Linked DNA regions of Homo sapiens: regions 1 and 2 are each linked to region 3. The links come from fine-mapping of genetic effects on gene expression. A gene starts in region 3. Each other region holds a variant in brackets. All regions are shown on one strand. Distances are between the middles of the regions.

The links. PIP is the estimated chance that this variant, and not a neighbour inherited with it, causes the effect.
Region 1: its variant is fine-mapped to the expression of ZFAND2A in monocytes after LPS (Quach 2016, PIP 0.95).
Region 2: its variant is fine-mapped to the expression of ZFAND2A in whole blood (INTERVAL, PIP above 0.99).

What each region holds. Positions count from the first base shown.
Region 1 is chr7:1,217,937-1,226,108 of GRCh38, forward strand. No RefSeq gene overlaps it. Among named protein-coding and RNA genes, the nearest start is that of UNCX, 11 kb to the right of the region's middle. RefSeq lists a silencer at 5,237-5,531 and an enhancer at 7,582-8,172. The variant T/C (reference allele first, on the strand shown) is at 4,085.
Region 2 is chr7:1,076,531-1,084,702 of GRCh38, forward strand. All of the region lies in intron 2 of CHLSN (cholesin), which reads right to left. It overlaps CHLSN-AS1 (CHLSN antisense RNA 1), which reads left to right. Exons shown (of 3, transcript NR_187853.1): 3 at 1,234-1,532. Among named protein-coding and RNA genes, the nearest start is that of GPER1, 7.5 kb to the right of the region's middle. The variant C/T (reference allele first, on the strand shown) is at 3,799.
Region 3 is chr7:1,156,090-1,164,261 of GRCh38, forward strand. It overlaps ZFAND2A (zinc finger AN1-type containing 2A), which reads right to left and starts at 4,107. Exons shown (of 5, transcript NM_182491.4): 1 at 3,875-4,107; 2 at 2,069-2,168; 3 at 1,567-1,661. The coding sequence starts at 2,123. ZFAND2A-DT (ZFAND2A divergent transcript) reads left to right here and starts at 4,285. Exons shown (of 3, transcript NR_110069.1): 1 at 4,285-4,534; 2 at 6,263-6,454; 3 at 8,072-8,172. RefSeq lists enhancers at 3,209-3,723, 3,724-4,236, 4,237-4,750, 4,751-5,263 and silencers at 4,046-4,585, 4,596-4,645.

The DNA.
Region 1 (8,172 bases), 62 kb after region 3:
ATAACCCGACCTGTGCAGGTGGGGCCTGGTAGTCTTGGTGGAAGACCCCGGATGCTGCCTCAAGCTGGGGCCTTTATGTGTGCCATGTACAGGGCAACGAGGTTGCTGCACCCCTCTGACCCCTGGGCACTCAGGGAGGTGGGAGCTTCTCCTGGACTTTGGAACAGCCTGTCCTTCGGGGGAGACAACGAAAGTCTTCTTTCTAGGACAGCTCCCAGCCACCCCCGCACACCACACCAGTCACCTTCTCGTTCACACACCTGAGCTCAGGAAAGCATCGCCCCCAGTTTCTCAGGAAGGTGGCCGCAGGAGCCTCCTGGTGACACAGGTCCTCTTCCCTGTCTCTGTTCTCCTGTGTTTTGTCTGAGGGCTGAGGCATTGACTCATGACCGTTTCCTCCATCTTGAAGTCTGTGGTTCTTCACCATTATACAGAACTCTGTTTGAAAGTCATTTTTTGGGAGGCTGAGGTGGGTGGATTGCTTGAGGTCAGGAGTTTGAGACCAGCCTGGCCAACATAGTGAAAACCTCTACTAAATACAAAATACAAAATACAAAAATATTAAATATTTAGTATTTAGTAGCCCGGCCTGATAATAATAACAAATTTTTTTAATGAAAAAAAATGAGTCACTCTCGTCTTAGTAAGTTTGAGGGTATCTTATTTAGGGGGAAACGAAGCCATAACCAAATGATGCAGAAGTTTCCTAGAGAAGGCAGAGAGAGGTTGGCCCGCCTTTGCCAGTGACCCTGAGCCAAACCTGAAGGTGAACAAGCCAGGTGCCCATTGTCTCCAGCGCACTTTAACAATGCTGATGAAAGCAAAAGAGGCCTTTTCAGCAATGCTGGCAGCCCCGTGAGCAGGGCATGGTTTCGCCGCTCCGTGGGAGTGGCCTGGGCCCCAAGACTCCAGAGACGCTACCATGGGGGAACTCGGTGGGCCTCTTCCAGCAGCCTGCCCTAGCCCGTGTAACCGGGCAGAGGAGGAGAAGCAGGCGGCCCCCGCTCACGCTTCCCACAGGCTATGCTCCCTCTGCTTTGCAGTGGTCCCGAGAATCCGATGGGCCACCCAGCCTCTACTCAGGCCATTGTGACACAGGCCCCCAGCGCTCCTCCTGCCTATTCTGAACGTGGGTTGCACCCCGGGTGCGTTGCAGTGTCAGACTGACCGGCCCAGAGCTGCAATGGCCCAGCGGGAGGTCACGAAGGGGTTCTGAAAATGAGCTGGGTGTGGGGGAGTAGGGGTCAGGAGGGGACCTGGAGTGGCAACCCCTGCACCTGCCATGCAGACGTTCCCCTGCGAGCTGGGCAGCAAGTCTCTCAGACAGAGCACCAAGAAGCTGCATTCCCCCGGTCTCCTGGGCTCACTCCCCTGACCCACTGCTATTAATAGTTGTGTCCAGGGGCCGGGCATGGTGGCCCATGCCTTTAATTCCAGCACTTTGGGAGGCTGAGGTGGGCAGATCGCCTGAGGTCAGGAGTTGGAGAGGAGCCTGGCCGACATGGTGAAACCCCGTCTCTCCTAAAAATACAAAAATTAGCTGGGTGTGGTGGCACATGCCTGTAGTCCCAGCTACTCGGAAGGCTGAGGCAGGAGAATTGCTTGAACCGGGGAAGTAGAGATTGCAGCGAGCTGAGATTGCACCACTGCACTCCAGCCTGGCAACAGAGTGAGACTCCATCTCAAAAAAAAAAAAATTGTGTCTAGGAATGAAAGCTGTTTGCAGCAAGCCAGAGAGAGCAAACAGCTCTCAGGTTCCTGTGTGGGGCCTGGAGACACCCCTGGTGGCTGGGGCAGGCGGGAGAACCGGGAACCTGGGAGACTGAAGGTTTAAACTTCTCTGCCACCTTGGCCCTCACTCACGACGACACCGGTGAGCTCCAGTTCGCACTCATGACCAGTTCTCACACATGACCCTAACTGGGATGTAATTTCTTCTTGCAGACTTGCTGCATATCTCTGTAGACAGATGTCCTATCCCCATCACCCCCGGAACTCACTACCCATGGACTCCTTAACTTGAGGTTACTGTGAACCATCTCAAGTTTCTTGTTTTTCTCCTGGTGGGTGGAATTTGACTGACCTCTGACTCTGTAGGAAGGTCAAAGGCAACAGGAACATTATTCCTTTAGCTATGCCTTTGTTTATGAAATCTTCAGAGCAATTTAGCCACCCTCTGACTGTCACACATCCCTGGGCAGGAACGAGTTGATAAGATGGGAGGGGCCTAAGTCATAATGGAGCAGGGGGGACGTGGGAAGAGCTCCCTTCCGCCCTGCCCCTCACCCCTGCCTCAGTTTGTCTGTGTGTAAGTAGCTGGAAGGGCTCTGCTGAGAATTAATTAACAAATGTCCATTTAATGTTTCTGGGGTAAGTGTCCCTTGGCTACTGAGCAGTGTTAAATAATTGCAACCCTCAAATGACGAGCCATCGTGTCTCTGATCTGGGGGGTGAAAGCGTTGTTACGTGTCTTTTCACAACGACTTTATTTAACGAGAGCTGATCTTTGCAATTTGGTTTATTTTCTCTATCCCTTTTAATTTCAGACTCAGGGGTTATTAGCAGATAACTGCTCATTTCTGCTGTAAATCAAGAAAATACTCATTAGAAGCCCAACGTTGAGATTGTCAGGAGCCGGGGCTTGTAAAGAACTGGGGGGAGGGCAAAATCTAGTGTGAAAATAGGCTAAGTTCAAAAGTATTTTTATTCAGGGAAAACGAAATGGCATTTTCTGAACTGAGCAACCTCTTAAGTTTTTTTTTTTTTTTTTTTTTTTTTTTTCAGACGGAGTTTTGCTCTTGTCACCCAGGCTGCAGTGCAGTGGCGTGATCTCGGCTCACTGCAACCTCCGCCTCCCGGGTTCAAGTGATTCTCCCACCTCAGCCTCCCGAGTAGCTGGGATTATGGGCACGCACCACCATGTCCAGCTAATTTTTGTATTTTTAGTAGAGACGGAGTTTCACCGTGTTGGCCACGCTGGTATCAATCTCTTGACCTCATGATCTGCCCGCCTCAGCCTCCCAAACTGCTGGGATTACAGGCGTGAGCTACCGCACCTTTCTCTTAAGTGTGTTAAACTCCAAATCGAACCTGGTAAGGTAGTAGGAGGACACCAACCCAGCAGATACGGAATTGAGTCCTCAAGACCAGGGAGTGGCGGGGACGAGTAGGCCAAGAGGATCCTCCCCAGGGACCCCTCGGGGGCCGAGCTGGCCACACAGGAGGGGCCGGACTGAGAGGACAGTTGTGACCTTCAGCATGCTGGCAGCCACCCTGCGCCCACAGAATGCAGACACTGCCAGCAGAAGGGGCTGGGGAGATATGAGAACATGTCTGTAGACTCTGAAAAAAACAAGAGTGCTGATGTTTAAACCATATGGCGGGGGCTGAGGACACAGGGACGCAGAGCTCAGCTCCTGGTCCTTCCCCGCCTCCAGTTCCCAGGTAGCATTTCTTCCCTTGTTTCTTTCTCTCGTGTTGATCACAGGAGAAAGTATTTTCAGTCCTCACCCCCCGTTTCCTCATTTTATACTCCTTTCCAGACGGTAGGATCTCTTCTTGCAAAATTATCCTCGCCTAATCCATGGAGACAGAAAGTGGATTAGTGGTTGCCGGGGGCTGGGGGAGGGAGCTGGGGACGGAGAGTGACTGCTAATGGGTGCCAGGTCTCTTTTCGGGGTGATGAAAATGTTCCAGAACTGGATAGGGGTGGTGGTGACGCAGCTCTGGGGATGTATATACAGATGCCGAATTGTATGCTTTAAAAGGATGGATGTGATGGTGCCAGTGATATCTCAATAAAGCTGTTATTTTAAAAATAGGCCTTGGCCGGGCGCAGTGGCTCACACCTGTAATCCCAGCGCTTTGAGAGGCCAAGGTGGGTGGATCACGAGGTCAGGAGATCAAGACCAGCCTGACCAACATGGTGAAACCCCATCTCTACTAAAAATACAAAAAATTAGCCAGGTATGGTGACGCATGCCTGTAATCCCAGCTACTCAGGAGGCTGAGGCAGGAGAATCGCTTGAACCTGGGAGGCGGAGTTTGCAGTGAGCTGAGATCCCGCCACTGCACTCCAGTCTAA[T/C]GACAGAGAGAGACTCCGTCTCACACACACACACACACAAAATCAGCCTTGCCTGTTGTTACAGTCCTATTACAATTGCTGAGACTGCGTGTCTTCAGCCTCTGGGTGGGAACTCACGTGAAGTTACTCCAGTGGTTCTGTGAGTTGCCCTCAAAGCTTTAATTCACCCCTAGCTTTTGCCTGAACACTCGTACAAGTTGGCCAGTATGGAAGACCCCCTGGTGTCCCATCCAGAGTCCACGTGCTAAAAGCTGCATCTGGGGCAGACACAGGCCTTGGATTTCTTTTCTTTTTTTTAGACAGTCTCACTCTGTTGCCCAGGCTGGAGTGCAGTGGTGTGATCTGAGCTTACTGCAACCTCCAACTTCTGGGTTCCAGCGATTCTCCTGCCTCAGCCTCCCGAATAGCTGGGATTACAGGTACCCACTACCATGCCTGGCTAATTTTTGTAGTTTTAATAGAGACAGGGTTTCACCACGTTGGCCAGACTGGTCTTGAACTCCTGACCTCAGGTGATCTGCCCACCTTGGCCTCCCAAAGTGCTGGGATTACAGGCGTGAGCTACTGTGCCTGGCCAGGGCTTGGATTTCTAAGTTGTCAAATGGGTTTATAAAAATCCTGTAGCAGGGCCAGGCGCGGTGGCTCACACCTGTAATCCCAGCACTTTGGGAGGCCGAGGCAGGCAGATCACAAGGTCAGGAGATTGAGACCATCCTGGCTAACACGGTGAAACCCCGTCTCTACTAAAAATACAAAAAATTAGCCGGGTGTGGTGGGCGCCTGTAGTCCCAGCTACTCAGGAGGCTGAGGCAGGAGAATGGTGTGAACCCAGGAGGTGGAGCTTACAGTGAGCCGAGATGGAGATCGCACCACTGCATTCCAGCCTGGGAGACGGGGTGAGACTCCGTCTCAAAAAAAAAAAAAAAAAAAAAAAAAAAAAAAAAAAAAAAACTCCAGTAGCAGAAAAACTGAAATGTGACTTGAGCCCCAGTCAAAGGGAGATAGGGAGACAGTGAAGACCCTGCTCTTTCTGAATCCTTAGAGCCCACCAGACCCTCTAAAAGGAATAATACAAAGACCCTCCTTTCACCAGATCAGCCGCAGGAAATGGCAGAACTCCCAGAATTGGGCCTCTGGTCCAAGGAGCGCAAGGGTGGAGCATGGAGAGGCCCATCAGGCATGGGAGGTCCTGGCAGAGGGGACTGGGAGGTCTGCATCGGCCTTGCTATGCCCTTTCTTGTTCTTGCAACTTCCTAATTTCAAACGTTTAATGAATTTGAAAAACAAGAAGATAACCCAGGCTGAGTTTGACACTGGAACCCCTTCACCCAGCCTGGACACAAGGTGTCCCCATCCTCCCGGGGACCAGCTCGGCGTCTCCTAGGATGGCTCTGCAGAGAGCATTGCAGAGTCATAGGACAGAAAATAAAAACAGGTCAGTGCTGGGTGAAAAAAGTTTTCTCTGAGCTGGACTCCTAGACTACACTGGCTAAGCACCCATGGGCATCTCAGCACCAGCTGGACTAATGTGAGGCCTCCTGCTGAGGTCCCAAGCCCCGCTTCAGAGAACAAGCCCCGCTTCAGAGAAAGGTGACCTTCGGGTGGCCTGTAGGATGACACTCAGGTGACCTCCACCTTCCTCCTGCCACAGCGGTCAGAAGAAGGCAGCCCTGGGAGGACCCCTCCGCCCAGGAGAGGGAAGATGCAGGCCGCACTGCAGAGACAGGCGGCTTGGAGGCTCCCCTCTGCCCCCAGCCCTCTCCAAGGAGCTGCCAGGCGTCAAGCTACTGCACAGGTCCCAGGGAAAGCCTCGACCCCTTCCTCTCCCATGAGCAGTAGTCGAAGAGGCTGCACGGAGGTCCCGGCCTCCGTGAGGGCGGTGGGTTGGAGAGGGCGCCTGGGGCCTCAGGACCCTGCTCCCTCCCGGGATTGTGGGTTTCCTGCCCCAAGGGTTTCGCGGCGTGGGCATGAGCGCTGGCATCTGCGCGCCCTGAGGTTCGGCCGCTGCGTGGCCTTCTCCGGGAGGTGGGGGGAATCCGAAGAGGTCCCACCCCAGGTTCGGTTCCCGGCTTCCTGGTCTTTGTTTACCAGGCTCCGAGGAGGACCTGCCTCTCTCCTCCCGCAGCCCTGGGCCCCCCACTCGACAGTTTCACATCCAGGGAGGGACAAAGGGGGACGCGGCCGGATTAGCTTTCGCAGCGCGCGGTGCGTTCCCGGGGTGCAGCTGCTTCGGGGCCCCTGCCAAGGCTCCGGCTTCTGCAGGCGGGACTCGGGCTCGGGCCACCACCGCGAGCACTTTCCTGGCCAGCTCCGTTCCCGCCCCATCGGGCCGGGCCGGGCCGAGCTGAGCGGGGCGCGGAGACCGCGGCGGACGGTGGGGAGAGCGCGCGCGCGTCCATCCGATTTCAGGCCTTTGTTGCCGGAGCCTCGTGCCGATGGGTTAATGGGGCAGAAGAGATCGGTGAAGGGCGACAGAAGCGGCCTTTGAAAGAGGGTGTCAGCGCGGGGCAGCGAGACAAAGGCCAAAACACACACGGGCGGAGAGGGACAGATGGGGACGGGCGAGGGAAAACAATTAGGCCGCAAGTGCGGGGGCGGGGCGCGGCTCCATCGTTTTCCAGTTAACCAGGCCTGGCCGGCGCGGGCCCCACGCCCCAGGCTGGAGCGGTGCCGAAGCGCAGAGCAGACCGGCTTCTGCTGCGTGCGCGAGTCCTGCACCCCGGCCTGCACCCCGCCCTGACCCCTCCACTCCGTGCAGGGGGTGGGGGCAGAAGGGGGCAGGGGAGAGGGAGGGAGGGATGGATGGATGGATGGATGAGTGAGTGAATGAATGAATGAATGAATGAATGAATCCCCCTGCCCGTAAATAACAGAAGAGCTGCGTCCCGGTGCCGGGGGTTGGAGCGGAAGGAGGGGCAGGGGAGAGGGAGGGAGGGATGGATGGATGAGTGAGTGAGTGAGTGAGTGAGTGAGTGAATGAGTGAATGAATGAATGAATGAATGGATGAATCCCCCTGCCCATAAATAACAGAAGAGCTGCGTCCCGGTGCCCGGGGTTGGAGCGGAAGGAGGGGCAGGGGAGAGGGAGGGGTGGATGGATGGATGAGTGAGTGAGTGAGTGAGTGAATGAATGGATGAATGAATGAATCCCCCTGCCCGTAAATAACAGAAGAGCTGCGTCCCGGTGCCCGGGGTGGGGGCAGAAGGAGGGGCAGGGGAGAGGGAGGGATGGATGAGTGAATGAGTGAATGAATGAATGAATGGATGGATGAATGAATGAATCCCCTTGACAGTAAATTACAGAAGAGCTGCGTCCCGGTGCCTGGAGTGGCGGCAGAAGGAGGGGCAGGGGAGAGGGAGGGAGGGAGGGAGGGATGGATGAGTGAGTGAGTGAATGAGTGAATGAATGGGTGAATGAATGAATGAATCCCCCTGCCCGTAAATAACAAGAGCTGCGTCCTGGCGGCTGACCGTAGCCACCCCGTGTCTCCCTGCGGGATGACCTGAGAGCGTTTCCTGGAAGCCGCGCAGCCCCTCTCCCGGCCTCCACCATCGGGGCCGCTCACCCTCTGGGGACTCTGGCCCCGGGACCCCGGGATCCAGGCCCGGTGCGCGCGGCTCCGGCCCCGAGCGCGCTGTCCAGGCTGGATCCCCACCAGGCGGCGCTGCGCCCCTCCGAGCCCGCCCGGCCGCGCTCTGCAAACCGATGCTGTTTAATTAACGTGCAAATTGAGTAGATTAAATGACTCTAAATAATTAGCCACAGATCCTACAAACAGGATAACAGATTTAATTAAGCAGCGATATAGATTTTGGAAACTGTTAATGTATTTTTAGAATGGCAGCTCAGATCCTTCACTTTTCCCCCCTAACTTCAAACATGTAACTACGGCCCTCCGAACGTGGATAAATATCTGGAAACAAGATTACGCCTGTTAACTTCAACTAATAGAAATGTGGGTTTAACAGGAACTTGCACGGCTCCGGCGCCGGCGCCGCTGCAGCCCGCGTGGCCCGGGCCGGGCCGGTTCTGTTTGGCTTTGTTGTTCTTGGTGCGCGCGGTCTGGCGCCTGGGCCCTGGGCAGAGA
Region 2 (8,172 bases), 80 kb before region 3:
AGGCCCGAGAGGGTTCCCCTAACACAGGCAAGCGTCATGCACAGGGCACAAGCACCGGGGAGGGATGTAAGAAAGGTCTATGCTTTCAGTTTCCAACAGGGCTGGCCCTGGGAAAAGCCGCAGAGGGAAGCTGGCTCTGAATTAATGTCCAAGATCTTTTCCTCCACTTGGCAGGGCTCTCTCCCTTCAGGGACCGGTGGCCTTGGCCAGGACTCTTCCCAGCCCAGCGCCACAGCCTTCTCGGGAAAGCCGGGGGAGGAGAGCATGGGGACTTGCACGCCTTGCCTGGCTGGGGAGAGGACCTGCCTTCTAGCCACACTTCCTGCACAGCCCACGCCCAACCCCTGGGTGACGCTCCTGGCACAGGCTTACGGGGTGGTCAGCGAGGGGCTGGCCCCTGCTCTGCAGCCAAGACTCAGGTTACCCAGTGTCCAGTCCGGAGCTCCTGCTGTTCTGGGTACCCTGCTGTTGCGGGCAGAGGGCCGAGACCCCCGGCCTGGGCCAGATGCCAATGCTGGCTCTTAGCTCGAGACTGTACGACAGGGTCCGAGGAAGGCGCTCTTGGGCTTACAAAGGCCTGAGCACTTTTCCCTGGTATTCTTGGGGGCTTTCAGGTCCTATTTTTATTTATTTTTATTTTTTTGAGATGGAGTCTCTCTCTGTCGCCCAGGCTGGAGTGCAGTGGTGCCATCTAGGCTCACCGCAAGCTCCGCCTCCCGGGTTCACACCATTCTCCTGCCTCAGCCTCCCAAGTAGCTGGGACTACAGGCTTCCACCACCAAGCCTGGCTAATTTTTTGTATTTTTAGCAGAGATGGGGTTTCACCGTGTTAGCCAGGATGGTCTCTATCTCCTGACCTTGTGATCCGCCCGCCTCGGCCTCCCAGAGTGCTGGGATTACAGGCGTGAGCCACTGCACCTGGCCTCAGGTCCTATTTGAAGTTGCTCTGGTCCTCCCAGAGTGCTGGGATTACAGGCGTGAGCCACCGCGCCCGGCCCCAGGTCCTATTTGAAGTTGCTCTGGCAGGGCTGCTTTCTGAACGTGCAAGCCCTCAGGTGCCCCGTGCACAGGCACACACCACCTTTTCCCTCTGCAGTACTAAGCTGGCTGCCTCCTACCAGGGCTAGTTTGAATTTTCCTAGGTCACACGGGCAAGCCAGACGCTGCTTACGTGCATTGAGTGTGGTGTGAGCGGCTTCAGACCAGATTCCTGTCTTCTTTACACAACTCTAGGTTTTCTGTGCCTGTTTTCGGTGAGCACAGAACAACTGAAGGAAGCGCGGGACAGACACAAGGGCGGGCCTCGGTGCCACGGCTGGCCTTGGGCAGAGGGAAATGCTTTGTGTACTTTCTCTGGGAAGCAGCAGCCCCAGCGCGGCCTCGGCGTCCTCTGCCGCCAACTGCTCCGTGACCGCTGGGCGTGTGTGCGGGGACATGGGAGCAACTTCACAGTGGTGGGAAGTTTCTCTCCTAAAACGAAAGCTTCTCTATACTACAGATTGGCCCCATTAAATAAAAGAAAATACGGTGTATTTTTACAGCGTTTGGGATTGGAAATGACTGAGATTCACGGTGGCTCTAGTCCTGTCTCCTGAAGACGGAGCTGGACGAGGTCTGCGGACAGTCAGAAAACACGTCAGGGTTTTGGCTCAGCTGCCAGATATGCAGCTATGGTGGGATTTCTGCGGCAGGGCAAGGAAGTGGAGACAGTTCGCGTGGCAGAGCACAGCGGGTGCCCTATAGTGGGCACGCCTGGAGAGCGTATATTTTCACAGGGCCCGAAACCTGAATGGAGGATTCTTTCCACCAGCTGCGGGGTGGGGGGGGGCTCAGGCACATCAGTTTTCCCACCCAGAAGACGAAGGCCTGCGAAGGGGGCCCCATGAGGCCTGGGAAGGGGGCCCCGTGAGACCTGGGGTTAAATCTTCCACAGCAAGCAGGGACCCCAGCCAGGCTCTGCACAAGGCAGGCGCTGCGCTCAGGTGGGAGTCCTGTGAGATGCTCCTGCACCCCACACTCCCGTGACCACAGGCGAGGCCTAACGCCCCCCACGCCGGTTCATCTCGTCTCCTCAAACTCCCACCAAGATGCTCACGACAGGGCCCAAATGCACTCCCGGGGGGTTGGCTAGTCTGCAGGATCACAGGCTGGCCCAGTGAAAACCTGGGCTTCGCTGCCTTACAACCATGCAGAACTCATAGCCAGGCCATGTGCCCACCTGCCCACTGGGACCCCGGGACAGTGCCTGCTCCAGACAGAGGCTGGGAGCTCTGTGAGGGGCACATGGAGTGAAGCAGAGCCTGCGGCTCACCTGTTTGGCTCTGGCTGGCCAGGTGCCCCCTCAAGCCCCAGCTCAGCCTTCCCCCAAACACTCAGCTCCATCCCCCACCCCAGCGGGTCAGGGCTCCATCAAGACTGCTGGTGAATGGCCGGCTGAGGAGGCAGCGAGGCAGCGGGTCAGGGCTCTGTCAAGACTGCTGGTGAATGGCCGGCTGAGGAGGCAGCGAGGCAGCGGGTCAGGGCTCTGTCAAGACTGCTGGTGAATGGCCGGCTGAGGAGGCAGCGAGGCCTTTGGAGAGGGAGGGCCAGGGTCACAAGACCAGCAGGGCACAAAGGTGGCTACGGGAGGAGCAGGAAGTCAACAGCCGCAAACAAACCTCCCAAGCCACTCGAAGCTGACATCCGCAGGCCACAGGGACACACCTGAGGCTGCGGAGGGGCGGCCACAGACCTTCACAGCCATCCTGGGTCCCCAGGCAGGCAACGCCCGGCTGCTCGTCTGCTGTCCACCTCCCTATGGGGACACCTCAAATCACACGAGAATTGTGACCTCAAAAGCTTATGCTGCTTTTGCACAGAAACAGTGACGTGTGAACCATCCTGGGATGGTATGAAAGACAAGCGCAGGTCTGGAAAAGCAGTTCAGAAGCCACTCAACTGTCTACGCTGGGGAGACGGTTTCGTGAGCTACCACCACAGCCTATAACTACTTATCCATTAAAAATGATAATAAAACCCAGGAAGAGGCCGGGAAAACATTCAATAAACCAGCGTGCTGAGGGAATCTGCACAACCCCCCTCCCTGCCCAATGTAGACGTGTGACGGGAAGTGGCAGGGGCAGCAGCTCCTCTGAGGGGCCCCGTGGCAGGCAGGCCCTGGCGGGGGCTGGGAGGGCTCAGGGGCAGGGGTGACTCCCAGATGCCCTCCAGAGGGTCCAGGGCCCTGCAGGAGCCACCAGCCCTCACCACTGGAGTCCCCGGCCTCCCAGCTCTGGGGAAGCAGCCCTGGAGAAGTGGCGCCCATGCTTTCTAGAACCTCTCTGAAGGGTTGTTTAAGCAGCGAGGGCCCATGCTGCCGTCAAGAACACACAATTCTCAAGGTCCCGGCTTTGGGGAGTTCCCCCAGGCCCCGAACCTGACCTTGGCAGCCCCTCTGCGTGGCTCAGGAACGAGTCCCACAAGCCCCTGGCTCTTGGCCGGAAACCGGCCACCAAAACAGACTGTGAAGGGCCAACCCCTCCTCCCAGGGAATTCCAGGGCTCAGTAGGACCCTTTGCTTTCCCTGGGGTTAGAAGGACAGGTGCTGGCAGAAACGCAAAACAGAGTGGCCACTTTGGCAGCTTTGTATGAAGCTAAATGTGCACACACTGTAAGAACCAGCGATGCCCAATCCTAGCGATCCACCCAAAATAAAATTACGCTCACATGAAACCCTGTATGTGAACATTTAAAGCAGCTTTATAATAGACACAATCTGGAAAGAACTCAAATGTCGCTCCCACGATGGCGGGACACAGA[C/T]CGCGGCACAGCCCCCCGTGCTCAGTGGCGAGCAGCCACGGCCACCTGGTGTGCACGACGTGACACACCATCTCAAGCGCAGGAGGCACGGGGACAGCCAGGCTCGGAGGCTGCACACGCACAGGTGCCACCCGCGTGACGGTCCGGGGAGTCTGATCACGGGAGCAGAGTGCAGCCGCACGGCCGCCAGGTTGGGTGGAGGGAGGGGCTGACCACCCAGGGACGGGCAGAGGAGTCTGGAACAGGACGGTTTGTGCGCTGCCTGCGAGCACCGTGCTTCCACGACTAGATGCCTCTGTGGTGAAAGCCAAAAGGAGTATTTTACTGCACACAAATTCTCAGAAATGATCATCTGAAAACTACAGGTTCTCGGCTAAGGCACCCAGGCTCAGACTGCCGACACATCGTTAAGCAGCTGGGTACCAGCAGCAATGACCTCATCCCTCTGACTCCGTGACCTCGGCTGCAGAGGGTCACGGCGAATTATATACACAGTGCCACGCACATGGGAAGCTCTCAGTGAGAGAGGGTGGGCTGAGAGCCGCTTGGCCTGGGCCCTGCACCTCGTCCCACTCTGCATGAACTGCCTTTGCGGGTAAGGTCGGGGAGAAGGTGCCAGGCTGTCAAGGCCCAGGGTGCAGGGGGCCAGGTGGGAAGAACAGGAAGGCCGGCCGAGCTGGAGCCTGCACGGCCCTGCATTTGTTACTCTGCCTCTTAGACTATGCAGTGGTAGCAGTGGAGGAGGGGGAGCACGCCCCCCACCCGGCAGCCCAGCAAGGCTGCAACCTGCAGCTCCCAAAGGGCTTGGTCCCTCCCCGCGTGCCGTCATCCAGGGCCACCAGGGCCGGGGACGGTGCCGGGCAGTGCCGCTGGGAGACGGGCTTGGTGCCTAGGCCGGGTGGGGGTGAGCTAAGCACACCCAGCCCCGCTCCACCAGACTGACCTTGCCAGGCTGGGATTTGAGAGGGCTTCGGGGATAACTGTGAGGACCCCCTCTCCTAAGACCCCCAAGTCAGGGGGCCATGAAAGGTGGGGGAAGGGGAACCTGTCTGGGACCACTCAGAATTCTTCCCTTTCCTTGTAGAGCCCGAGCCCGGGCAGAAGAACCAGAACAAAACCTAAGTACAAACACGGCGGGCTCGAGCGGGGCTTGGCACGGCGCAGGGGTGGCGGCAAGGGGGCAGCCTGGACTGGAGCCAGAAAGCCTGTGCTGGCATCCGCCACGCGGACGGGGAAGCTGAGACCCAGGGCTCAGGTCACGCTTACGTCGTTTGGTAGCCAGGTACCAGGACCTCATGCCATACACAGCACACAGGCTGTGGAGCTGGAGCCAGTCGAGGAACCTGGAAGCCCCGACCCAGACAAGGCGCAGCCTGGGGGAGGGACAGGGAGGCCTCTCGAACCCATGGCTTTCTTCTGCCCACTGCAGCCTGGGGGAGGGACAGGGAGGCCTCTCGAACCCATGGCTTTCTTCTGCCTGCACAGGGGCCCCTCCTGTCCACGATAAAAGCCCAGTAATAAGGAGAAAGCAGTCAGCAGCCTTCACCTCAGCTCCAGACTCCGTTCTCGGGGCCAAGTTCAGGTGTGTGCCTGTCCCCCCACCCACCAGGTGGCCAGGCCTGGCTATGACCGCACGGGAGAGCAGGGCGGACCCCGCGAACGGGGACAGCACCTGACGGCGACATCCACAAACGCCGCCCCGCAGGAGCACGCACTCCCACACAAAGCGCCTGCAGCTGACAGCCGCCGGGAGGGGACATCTGGACAGCCTCACGCAGCTTTCAGACCTGCAGTCCATGTTAAAAGGATCTTGTTTCCAATTTGCCTTAATTAAACAAACATTCCAAACCACTTCCTCTCAGTCTGACCATTGTTCTTCATTCCATGGTACTCGGAGTCCTGGGAACCACTCATCACTGTCGGGTGCAGGTGGACGTCCCCTCACGGTAAGGTCAGAGTGCTCCCGCCCAGCGCGTGGCTCCGCGGCGCCCTGTGTGCCTGGGGGGTGAGAGAGGGTGGCGGGGGCGAGGTGCTTGTGAGGCACATCACAATGGGGCCCGAGGGCGCTGCGTGCACAGGACTCTACAGCACAGTCTTCATGGGCCGTTGGTCTGAGTTACTCAGAGCAGGGGATGATCCATCCCCACTTAAAGACAAAGTGAATGGGGTTAAACAGGTGCTGTGAGTGGCTGGGACGGGCTCACAGGAGGAGGGGCCAGCATGGGCCACGCACCACACTCTCACCCAAGACCCAAAGCCGGCCAGGCCACCGATGGGCAGAGATGACTGCAGCTTCCAGAATAGTGGGCTTCATGGGGTGGGCATCCCAAAGCATATCACAGCCCCTGGGGGGCAGGGCAGGTGCTGCATGATCCTGGTCCTGTGTCCAGCTCCTGCCACTGCCCCATCTCGTAACCCTCTGGACACAGAGAACGCAGAGAACAGGCAGTGTTCCATGTTCCCACCAAGGGGAAGATCCAGCGCCCGCAGAGAACTAAGGAAGCACCGGGGAGTGTGGTGCTACTGAAGAGAGGATGCGTCATTTGCATTTATCCAAAGAAAGGGTTCACGATGTCTTACGTTCAAACAGATAAAATCAGACTGAGGTGGGGTGGGAGGAGCCTCCCCGAGGCTCCTTGAGGAACTGCCTGGCAGTGACCGAGGTGGGGCTGGGACAATGCCCAGGTGCTGGCCTCTCCTCGGATATTCCGCCATGTGCTCCTGGGGGCGGAGGGTCCCCCAAGGGCAGAGCTCAGCCAGCACCACCCTGCCCACTCTTCTGTAAAGTGCCCCTGGCACGACGCTCCCAGAGAACCCAAGGATGCGCCCAGAATGCTCCCAGCAACCACTGAGGGGGCCCTGCTGGGAGACCCGCAAAACTGCCAATGCCTTGTAGGCCAGCAGCCGCACGCGCCTTCAGTGCTGGAGTCACGCCCAGGGGCTGACGGGCCAGATGGTCTCTGAGTGCAGCAAATTCCGTCTTGTGAGGGAAAGTGATAGAAGATGAGAGTGTGGGCCGGGCGCGGTGGCTCAAGCCTGTAATCCCAGCACTTTGGGAGGGTGAGGCGGGTGGATCACGAGGTCAGGAGATCGAGACCATCCTGGCTAACACAGTAAAACCCCATCTCTACTAAAAAAAAATACAAAAAATTAGCCGGGCCTGGTGGCAGACGCCTGTAGTCCCAGCTACTCGGGAGGCTGAGGCAGGAGAACGGTGTGAACCCGGGAGGTGGAGCTTGCAGTGAGTGGAGTTCGCACCACTGCACTCCAGCCTGGGCGACAGAGCAAGACTCCATCTCAAAAAAAAAACAAAAAAAACAAAAAAAAACACGAGAGTGTGGAGGCGCAGACGACGGGAGCACCTGAGCTTCCGTGCTCAGCATGCTGTGGTCAACTGTGGTCTGCACACACCCACCGTTAACTGGGCCCTCCAGCTGCAGACACCAAACAGGGACAGGACGGCGGCACCGACGCGCCCACGTCCACCAGTGCCAGGCGACACAGCAGAAAACCAGGATGCCCTGCCCCTCACCGCACTGTTTCCGGGCTCGGCAGGCACACACCCTGAATGAAAGGCTCCAACCTGGCGCGGAGCCACGGCCTGCGTGCTTCTGAAGGAACAAGAGAGACGAAGTCACTGTGGGCCGCACCACGTCCTGACAGCAGCTAACCTCCCCAGGCCGGAATGGAACAGATGGAAGACATGGCAAGTCTGTCTGAGGGGAGGTCACAGGATGTCCCTAAAGTCAGGATATGGCACGGAATGCAGAAATTGGAGCAGAGTTCCAACCCCGCCTGCCACTGGTGCGGCAAAACCCGCACACCCCACACACAGCTTCCTTGGGACCTGGGCTCTTTCTATAAAGGGGCTGCTGGTGCATGTCTCCTTAATGCTCCAGGCCTGTGAGGATCGGATGCCCGAGGGTGCTCCTGCATGTCACGCGGAGGCGGGGGACGCCAGCGATGCCCTCCCGGGGGCGTGGGAAGGGGCTCTCGGCCTCCCTTGACTCTCCATCATCAGAGAATGTGTCCGCCTGGCATGTGAGACACGGCGCACTTCTCCGAACCTCGGGCTGTCTTCCAGCATGTGTTAGCTCTAGAATTCCTTCTGCACACAGCTTGATGTCTCCCCTGTAAGGTGGATCCGGCGCGTGGTACTGTGAGCACCTCCAACCAACTGCTCCCTCCCTTGTGCCTATGGGGGAGAAGCGAATGAGCCAGGACTGGGCTAATCTCAGGCAGTGCCGCCCCACCCTTGCCCCTGGTGGACCGCTCCCCTTGAAAAGGAGCAGCAGTTGGTGGGAAGGGAAGCCTCACTCCGCCCAGCAGAGACAAGGGGTGTGTGGGATCTCACAGAACCGTGTAGACCCACGC
Region 3 (8,172 bases):
TGAGGGCTCCAAAGGGGTGGACCGCCCAGCAAGGCTAAAAACCTGAGCTGGGGGCTCCGAAGGGGTGGACTGCCCAGCAGCTGAAGGCCCAGCAAGGCTAAAAACCTGAGCTGGGGGCTCCGAAGGGGTGGACCGCCCAGCAGCTGAAGGCCCAGCAAGGCTAAAAACCTGAGCTGGGGGCTCCGAAGGGGTGGACCGCCCAGCAGCTGAAGGCCCAGCAAGGCTAAAAACCTGAGCTGGGGGCTCCGAAGGGGTGGACCGCCCAGCAGCTGAAGGCCCAGCAAGGCTAAAAACCTGAGCTGGGGGCTCCGAAGGGGTGGACCGCCCAGCAGCTGAAGGCCCAGCAAGGCTAAAAACCTGAGCTGGGGGCTCCGAAGGGGTGGACCGCCCAGCAGCTGAAGGCCCAGCAAGGCTAAAAACCTGAGCTGGGGGCTCCGAAGGGGTGGACCGCCCAGCAGCTGAAGGCCCAGCAAGGCTAAAAACCTGAGCTGGGGGCTCCGAAGGGGTGGACCGCCCAGCAGCTAACGCCCAGCATGGCTAAAAACCTGAGCCAGGGCAGGAATTGATGGAAAGGTCAATGAGAAAACCGAGGTGGCAACCGACATGGAACGGGTGGCAGGTGCTCACGGAATTATGAGCACACCCGTCTACAGCCCGAGCTGGGAGAGTCACAGGTGGTGGTGCTTCCTCATTTGGTCAAATGAAATAAAGTATTAGTAAACGGTCTCCAGCCAGACCCCACCCCATGCTGGGGCAGGAAGGGGCAGTGGGAAGACAAGCTGGGCAGTCTGGCTTAGTCATCCGTGCCTAGTAAACGCAGGGAATGTGAGTCACCCTCCCCACCCACCGTGATGGCCTAAAAATGGCTGGAGGGTCAGACCCTGGCCAACACTGGTCAAAGCACAGAATGCTGGGCCACCCACATTACCACTGCCACCACGGTCAAGTGGCAGAGTTCACTAAAATGACCTGTGACCCATCCAGAGACAAAGTAAACACGGGCTGGGAACCATCTGAAAAGTCAACAACAAGTCTCAAACCTCTGGACTCGGGGCAAGCTCATTTCCTTAGGTCCTCTTTCAGTTTCTGCTGTGTACTCTGGGAGTCACCTAAATACTATGTCAAGGCTGCAGTTATTCAAATCAATAAGCGTATTTACTGCCTTCCTGATTGGCTTCCAAGTCAAATATTAAAATCTTTCTTGCATCTGGTGAAGACACAGCTATGGTGTAACAGCTATGGTGTAACAGATCAAAGGAACCAAGTATTTGAACATCTAAAGTAAGCTTGGAACATAAGGTTACAACTAAGTGACTCCATGAGTCCCTGAAAATAAGATCTCAGTTGTCTGAGAGTCATCCAACAGAATGTCCTGTGAGGGCAGACACGCTCCTCTGTACTGCCTAACAGCAGGCACCTGAAACGAGGCTAGTGGGACTGAAAAACTGGATTTTAAAATTTAATTTTCAATGAGTTAGCCATACGTCGCTAGTCCCTACCATACCAGCAAGACAGTGCAGCTTCAGACGGTGAAGATGAGAATCTTTTGAACAAAGGATCAATTACCTTCTGGAATGCAAACGGACACTTATGTGCAGCGTATGGAAAATGATCTTTACAGAAATCTTGTTTACATGCATCACATTTTACTGGAAGAAAATCTAAAAAACAAAAAACAGGGAAGTGTTTTAACGACTGGAACAAAATACTTCCAGATAGTACTATCAAAGTGTTTACCTACACTAAGTGTTTTAGGCCTATGAGATGGACAGGTCCTCGAGGGCCACACATGTGAAAACAATCCCAGGGTCAGGCTGTCTTCTAGAGACCCCCTATGGCATCGCAAGTATTCCAGCAGCCCCCTGGATCCACCTGGCCCTGCTAGCCAGCCTGCACTCCTGCACCCAGCCTCTGGTGGATGCTAAGTGTCAAACAGAACCTGCACCAGCACAGTTCCCAATACTGAGGAGCCAGGAAGGCCAAGACACAATTATCAGCTAATTAACAGAACAGCCAGCTTTCCCCCAACAAAATACCATTTTCTATTAAGTCTCTTAAAAGTACTCACCTAGCTGCTTGCAAGTCTTTTCTGAACAATGCTTCCCCAAATCAGGAAACTCCATTATGAGAACAGTGCTCAAAACGCAGATGGCGGAGTTAAGTGTCACCTACAAGAGAATCAGAATAGTTAGGAGGAAAGCTGGACTGCCCTTCAGTCACCAGGATTTACAATGTAATTACAGCTAATGAAAGTCAACAAACGCACTGTGTGGGGAGCATTCCATGGAGTTTTAGTACAAATACCAGGTGTCCGCCATTCGTAGTCAACCCCATTAAGAGACACGGACTCCTTCACAGGCCTTTTAATTCCTAGTCTATGAAGCACTCCTTGAACTCGGGTTTCTATTTAAACTCACACTGAGGGGGCGAGAGCTAATTCACACAGCTGCCAGTGATGATTACGACTTTGGTGAATTTTAAGTCACAATTTTATCCATGGAATATACTTGTTCACATAAACAAAACTCTGTTACTAGGTGCTAAATCACATCAGTTGACTCCATTATCCAGAGAAGATTTAACTCTGTCCCTCGCCTCTCTCTTCAACTCCCTTAGGCATTGAATCTTACTGTGAACTTATTCCTCGATGACATCAACCTGGAGTTGATCAGGGAGAAGCGCAAGCTGTTAAGTCACTATGGAAAACAGGCAGACAGCTGGTGAAACTACCGCACTCGAGAGAGAATCAAGGGGCTCACGAGGTCCCCTCCATGATCTAGTACCCACCAGCCCTCCCGGGGCCTTTTCCTGGGGCTCACGAGGTCCCGTCATCTAGTACTCACCAGCCCCTCCCGGGGCCTTTTCCTGACCTTCCCATCAGCTCTCTCCCCACTCCTGGAGGCCTCCTAGACTGTCGCCTAAGACTGGAACACTCTCGCCCATGGCAAACGTCTAGTTATCCCCTCCCGCCTCAGTTTAAAGCCATTCCCACCCTCCCCAGTTCCCTCTATGTTACACGCCCGCTACTTAAGGTGCCCATTAGTCCTTTCCCAGCCCTCCTTCGCCCACAGCTTCCAACTACAGATCCGCTGCTTTACTATTAGCTCCCGGTGCCCGACACACAGCAGGCGTTCCGAAATTGTTTTGTTCAAGGAATTCACAAGAGTTTGATGTGAATCCCCAAATGATTTTGTTCTGGACGCACAGCACCCGTCCTAGGAAACCAACACCCTACCCTGGCGGGCCGGGCCCGCAGCAAGAAAACACACATCTACGTGGCTGTCACTCGGCTGGCGGGTTAACGACCCCGTGCGACCCGGTACTACGGCCCCGATGGCAGGCCCGGCCCCCAGCAGACAGCCGGACTCCCAGCAGACAGGCCGGACCCCCAGCAGCCAGACCCCGGCAGGCCCGGTCCCCAGCAGACAGCCGGACCCCCAACAGCCAGACCCCGGCAGGCCCGGTCCCCAGCAGACAGGCCGGACCCCCAACAGCCAGACCCCGGCAGGCCCGGTCCCCAGCAGACAGGCCGGACCCCCAGCAGCCAGACCCCGGCAGGCCCGGTCCCCAGCAGACAGGCCGGACCCCCAGCAGCCAGACCCCGGCAGGCCCGGTCCCCAGCAGACAGCCGGACCCCCAACAGCCAGACCCCGGCAGGCCCGGTCCCCAGCAGACAGGCCGGACCCCCAGCAGCCAGACCCCGGCAGGCCCGGTCCCCAGCAGACAGGCCGGACCCCCAGCAGCCTGACCTCCAGCAAGCAGCCGGACTTTCAGCAGCCGCACTCCTAGCAGACAGGCCGAACCCCCGAGCAACCTGACCTCAAGGCAGGCCCGACCCCCGGCAGACCCTGTCTGCGCAATCCCGGCCCCGTACCTGGCTCTCGTCGGGGACCCAGGCAGCTGAGGTGAGCAGCAGATGGAAGAGACGTAAACTCAGGTGTCCTCCTCCGTAGTCGGCTCCGGGTAGCTAAGCAGAAAGAACCTCGACACTGGCACCGAGACGCCGTCGGAGGCACACCCACACCCACACCGGAACGCAACATCTCGCTGCCCGCGGCCTACGGGGATTTATCCGCAGCCCCCGGATCTGAGAGCCGTCTGGGCCTTGGGGTTTCCGGGCGCGCCCCGACAACGTCACCCGCAGACCGGCCAATCCCGCCAGGCCGCGGCCCAGTGGCGCCGGCGCACACCGAAGACGACACCAGCCATCCGGCCAATCCCGCCCCGCCGCGCCCCGCAGGCCCGCCCACTCCTCGCTTCTCCACTTCCCTTCTCGAAGTGTCCGGTCGCTTCTCGCAGGCGGCGCGCTTGCTGGGTCACAGTGAGGCGGCTCCGCGCAGGCGCAGCCGGGCGGGCGAGGAGCGGGGAAGCTGACTCAGGGCTGCGGCCGGGGTCCTGCGGGGTAGGAGCGCGAGGCCGGCCTGAGGGAGGAGGCCTAGCGACCCATCCGGCGCCTCCCGCCCCGGGCACCCGCCCGCGGCCGCGCATCCTGCGGGCCCCAGGAGGCCTCCATCTCAAAACAACGTGTTTTTAGGTAATTTCAAACTTAGGGAAAAGCTTCAAGAATAATACCGAAAATGTCAGTGTCCCCAGCACCTAGATCCCCCAGTTAAATCCTTTTCCATTTCACCGCGCTGCCCCCCGCCCCCTGGACGGTTATGTGGCCGCGTGGGGTTGGCTCTGCCCAGGGCCGCGGTCACTGCACAGAACGCCCTGCACGTAAGGGGCTCCGCCTGGGTAAGACCCCGCCCAGCTGGGCAGGAGGAGGGCGTGGGCCCAGGACATGGAGACCAGCCTGGGCAACATAGCGAGACCCCATCTCTGCAGAAATAAAATATTAGCCGGACGGTGCACGGTGGCTCAGGCCTGTAATCCCGGCACTTTGGGAGGCCGAGGTGGGAGGATGGCCTGAGGTTAGTGTCTCACATGTCTGTGTGAAGAGACCACCAAACAGGCTTTGTGTGAGCAACAAGGCTGTTTATTTCACCCGGGTGCAGCCCGGCTGAGTCGGAAAAGAGAGTCAGCAAAGGGCGATGGGATTATCATTAGTTCTTACAGGTTTTGGGATAGACGGTGGAGTTAGGAGCAATGTTTTGCAGGCAGGTGGTGGATCTCATAAGGTACATTCTCAAGGGTGGGGAGAATTACAAAGAACCTTCTTAAGGGTAGAGGAGATTACAAAGTACATTGATCAGTTAGGATGGGGCAGAAACAAATTACAAGGGTGGAATGTCATCAGTTAAGGCTGTTTTCACTTCTTTTGTGGATCTTCAGTTGCTTCAGGCCATCTGGATGTATACATGCAGGTCACTGGGGATATGATGGCTTAGCTTGGGCTCAGAGGCCTGACAGGAGTTCAAGACCAGCCTGGTGAACATGACGAAACCCTGTCTCTACAAAAATAAGAAATGAACGCAGCATGGTGGCATGCACCTGCAGTCCCAGCCTCTTGGGAGGTGGAGGCATAAGTCAGCTGTGAATGCGCCCTGCACTAGAGCCTGGGCAGCAGAGCAGACCCTTCCTCAAACCCAAAAAGCGTCGTGCCAACCAGACCAGATGGTCGCCTAATCAATAGAGACCATGCCCAATCAGGTAAGGACAGACACAACCAGGCATGCTTTTTCTTGTTTTGTTTTTTGTTTGTTGTTTTGAGATGGAGTTTCACTCTTGTTGCCCAGGCTGGAGTGCAGTGGTGTGATCTCGGCTCACCGGAACCACCACCTCCTGGGTTCAAGCGATTCTCCTGCCTCAGTCTCCCAAGTAGCTGGGATTACAGGCATGCACCACCAGGCCCGGCTAATTTTGTATTTTTAGTAGAGACGGGGGTTTCTCCATATTGGTCAGGCTGGTCTCAAACTCCCAACCTCAGGTGATCTGCCTGCCTCGGCCTCCCAAAGTACTGGCATTACAGGCGTGAGCCACTGCGCCCAGCTTGTTGTTTTTCTTTAGACAGTGTCTTCCTCTGTGGCTCAGGCTGAAGGGCACTGGGATGATCACAGCTCACTGCAGCCTCCACCTCCCAGGCTCAAGCCATCCTTCTTCCTCAGGCTCCTGAGTAGCGGGAGCTACAGGCATGCGCCATCATGCCTGGCTAATTTTTGTATTTTTTGTAGATACGGGGTTTTGCTATGTAGCCCAGGCTGGTCTTGAACTCCTGACCTCAGGTGATCCCTCTGCCTCAGCTTCCCAAAGCGCTGGGATTACAGAACATGAGCCACTGTGCCCGGCTTATTGTACAGTCTTTACTCTCGGTTTTCACCAGAGAACTCAAGGGCTGTGAAAAGAGCAGGACCTCACCAGCTGCACGGCGGTGGTGACTGGCTCCATCTTGCTGTCCCTCCCAATCACACAACATCTCCCCTTGAAGGCTCTGCCCAGGCCCGGACTCCCACCTTTCAAGATGTCTGGATCAGTGCAGGACCTCCTCCTTGGCCACATCGCTCTCCTTGGACTGGTTCGTTAACCCTGTTTTACCCACATTTTCTTTTTTTTTCTTTTTCTTTTTTTTTTTTTTTCTGAGACAGAGTTTCATTCTTGTTGCCCAGGCTGGAGTGCAATGACTCGGTCTCGGCTCATTGCAACCTCCGCCTTGCAGGTTCAAGTGATTCTCCCACCTCAGCCTCCCAAGTAGGATTACAGGTACACACCACCACGCACAGCTAATTGTTTTGTATTTTAGGAAGAGATGGGGTTTCATCATGTTAGCCAGGCTGGTCAGGTGATCCATCCGCCTTGGCCTCCCCAAGTGCTGGGATTACAGGCGTGAGGCACTGTGCCCGGCCTGCCCCCCTTTTCTCTTGATGTAAGTGGACATTTTAATCCATAATCTGTAACATTTATGTATTAAGTTTACTACTATCTTTGGTTTGCAGTGTTGACTCACCTGTGGAGTGGTCTGAGCCTGAATGCCCGGGGCTGTGGCCACCGAGTGAACGGGCTGTGCTAAGGGGAATTGCCACCTTGGGAAACCTGTGTAGTTGCGGCTTTTCTGATTAAGTATCAATAAAAGTCTGACCTTGTGAAAAAAGCAAACGTGAGTGGCCCTGCTTATGTTTCACCTTGCGTTGCTCAGTGATAGTTCTGCAAAGTCGCAGGAAACCTGGAATCATCTAATTATCGTGAGTGTTGGTGAGTAACACCCATAGGCACTGGCTCCCGGGGAAATACAGAGTCAGGTTCCTCCGAGCCGCTGGCCACAGCATTTTTGTTAAGCAGTTCATCGTTAACCTTGTTGTACATGTCTCTCTCTCAAGGTTCCTTATTTAATAATGTCTAGTTGATTCATTAACATGGAATTCATGGCCAGTACCTCTGTCACTCATGCCTGACTGAAGTTGATCAGCACGTCTTTTTCTCCCTTAGGCACATGACAGCCTTCTTGCAATCAAGAAACTACGTGTGGCCAGGTACGGTGGCTCACGCATGTAATTCCAGCACTTGGGGAGGCCAAGGCGGGTGGATCACCTGAGGTCAGGAGTTTGAGACCAGCCTGACCAGTATGGTGAAACTCCTTCTCTAGTAAAAATACAGACATTAGCCGGGCATGGTGGTGCACACCTGTAATCCCAGCTACTCGGGAGGCTGCGGCAGGAGAATCTCGGGGGTGGAGGTTGCAGTGAGCTGAGATCGCCCCACTGCACTCCAGCTTGGGCAACAGTGAGACTCCATCTCAAAACAAAACAAAACAAAAAAATTGGCCAGGTGTGGTGGGGGGCGCGGCGCACCTGTAATTCCAGCTGCTCAGGATGTTAAGGCAGAAGAATCGCTTGAACCTGGGAGGTGGAAGTTGCAGTGAGCCTAGATTGTGCCACTACACTCCAGCCTGGTTGACAGAGTGAAGCTCTGTCTCAAAAAAAGAAAAGAAACAATACTAAGTTCTGATTCTCAGACCCCATTCAGTTTTTTTTTGTTGTTGAGACGGAGTCTCGCTCAGTCGCCCAGGCTGGAGTACAGTGGTGCGATCTTGGCTCACTGCAACTTCTGCCTCCTGGGTTCAAGCGATGCTCCTGCCTCAGCCTCCTGCAGATTTTACAGACAGTATCAACAATGTCTCTTTTCCTTTCCGCTCCAGGATCTCATCCACTATCACAGTTTCAGCTTTCCCCAAACTGGAATGTGTCTTTGCAGACGCCCATCCTTATTAAAGGGCAAAGACTTCTCATACACCTAGGA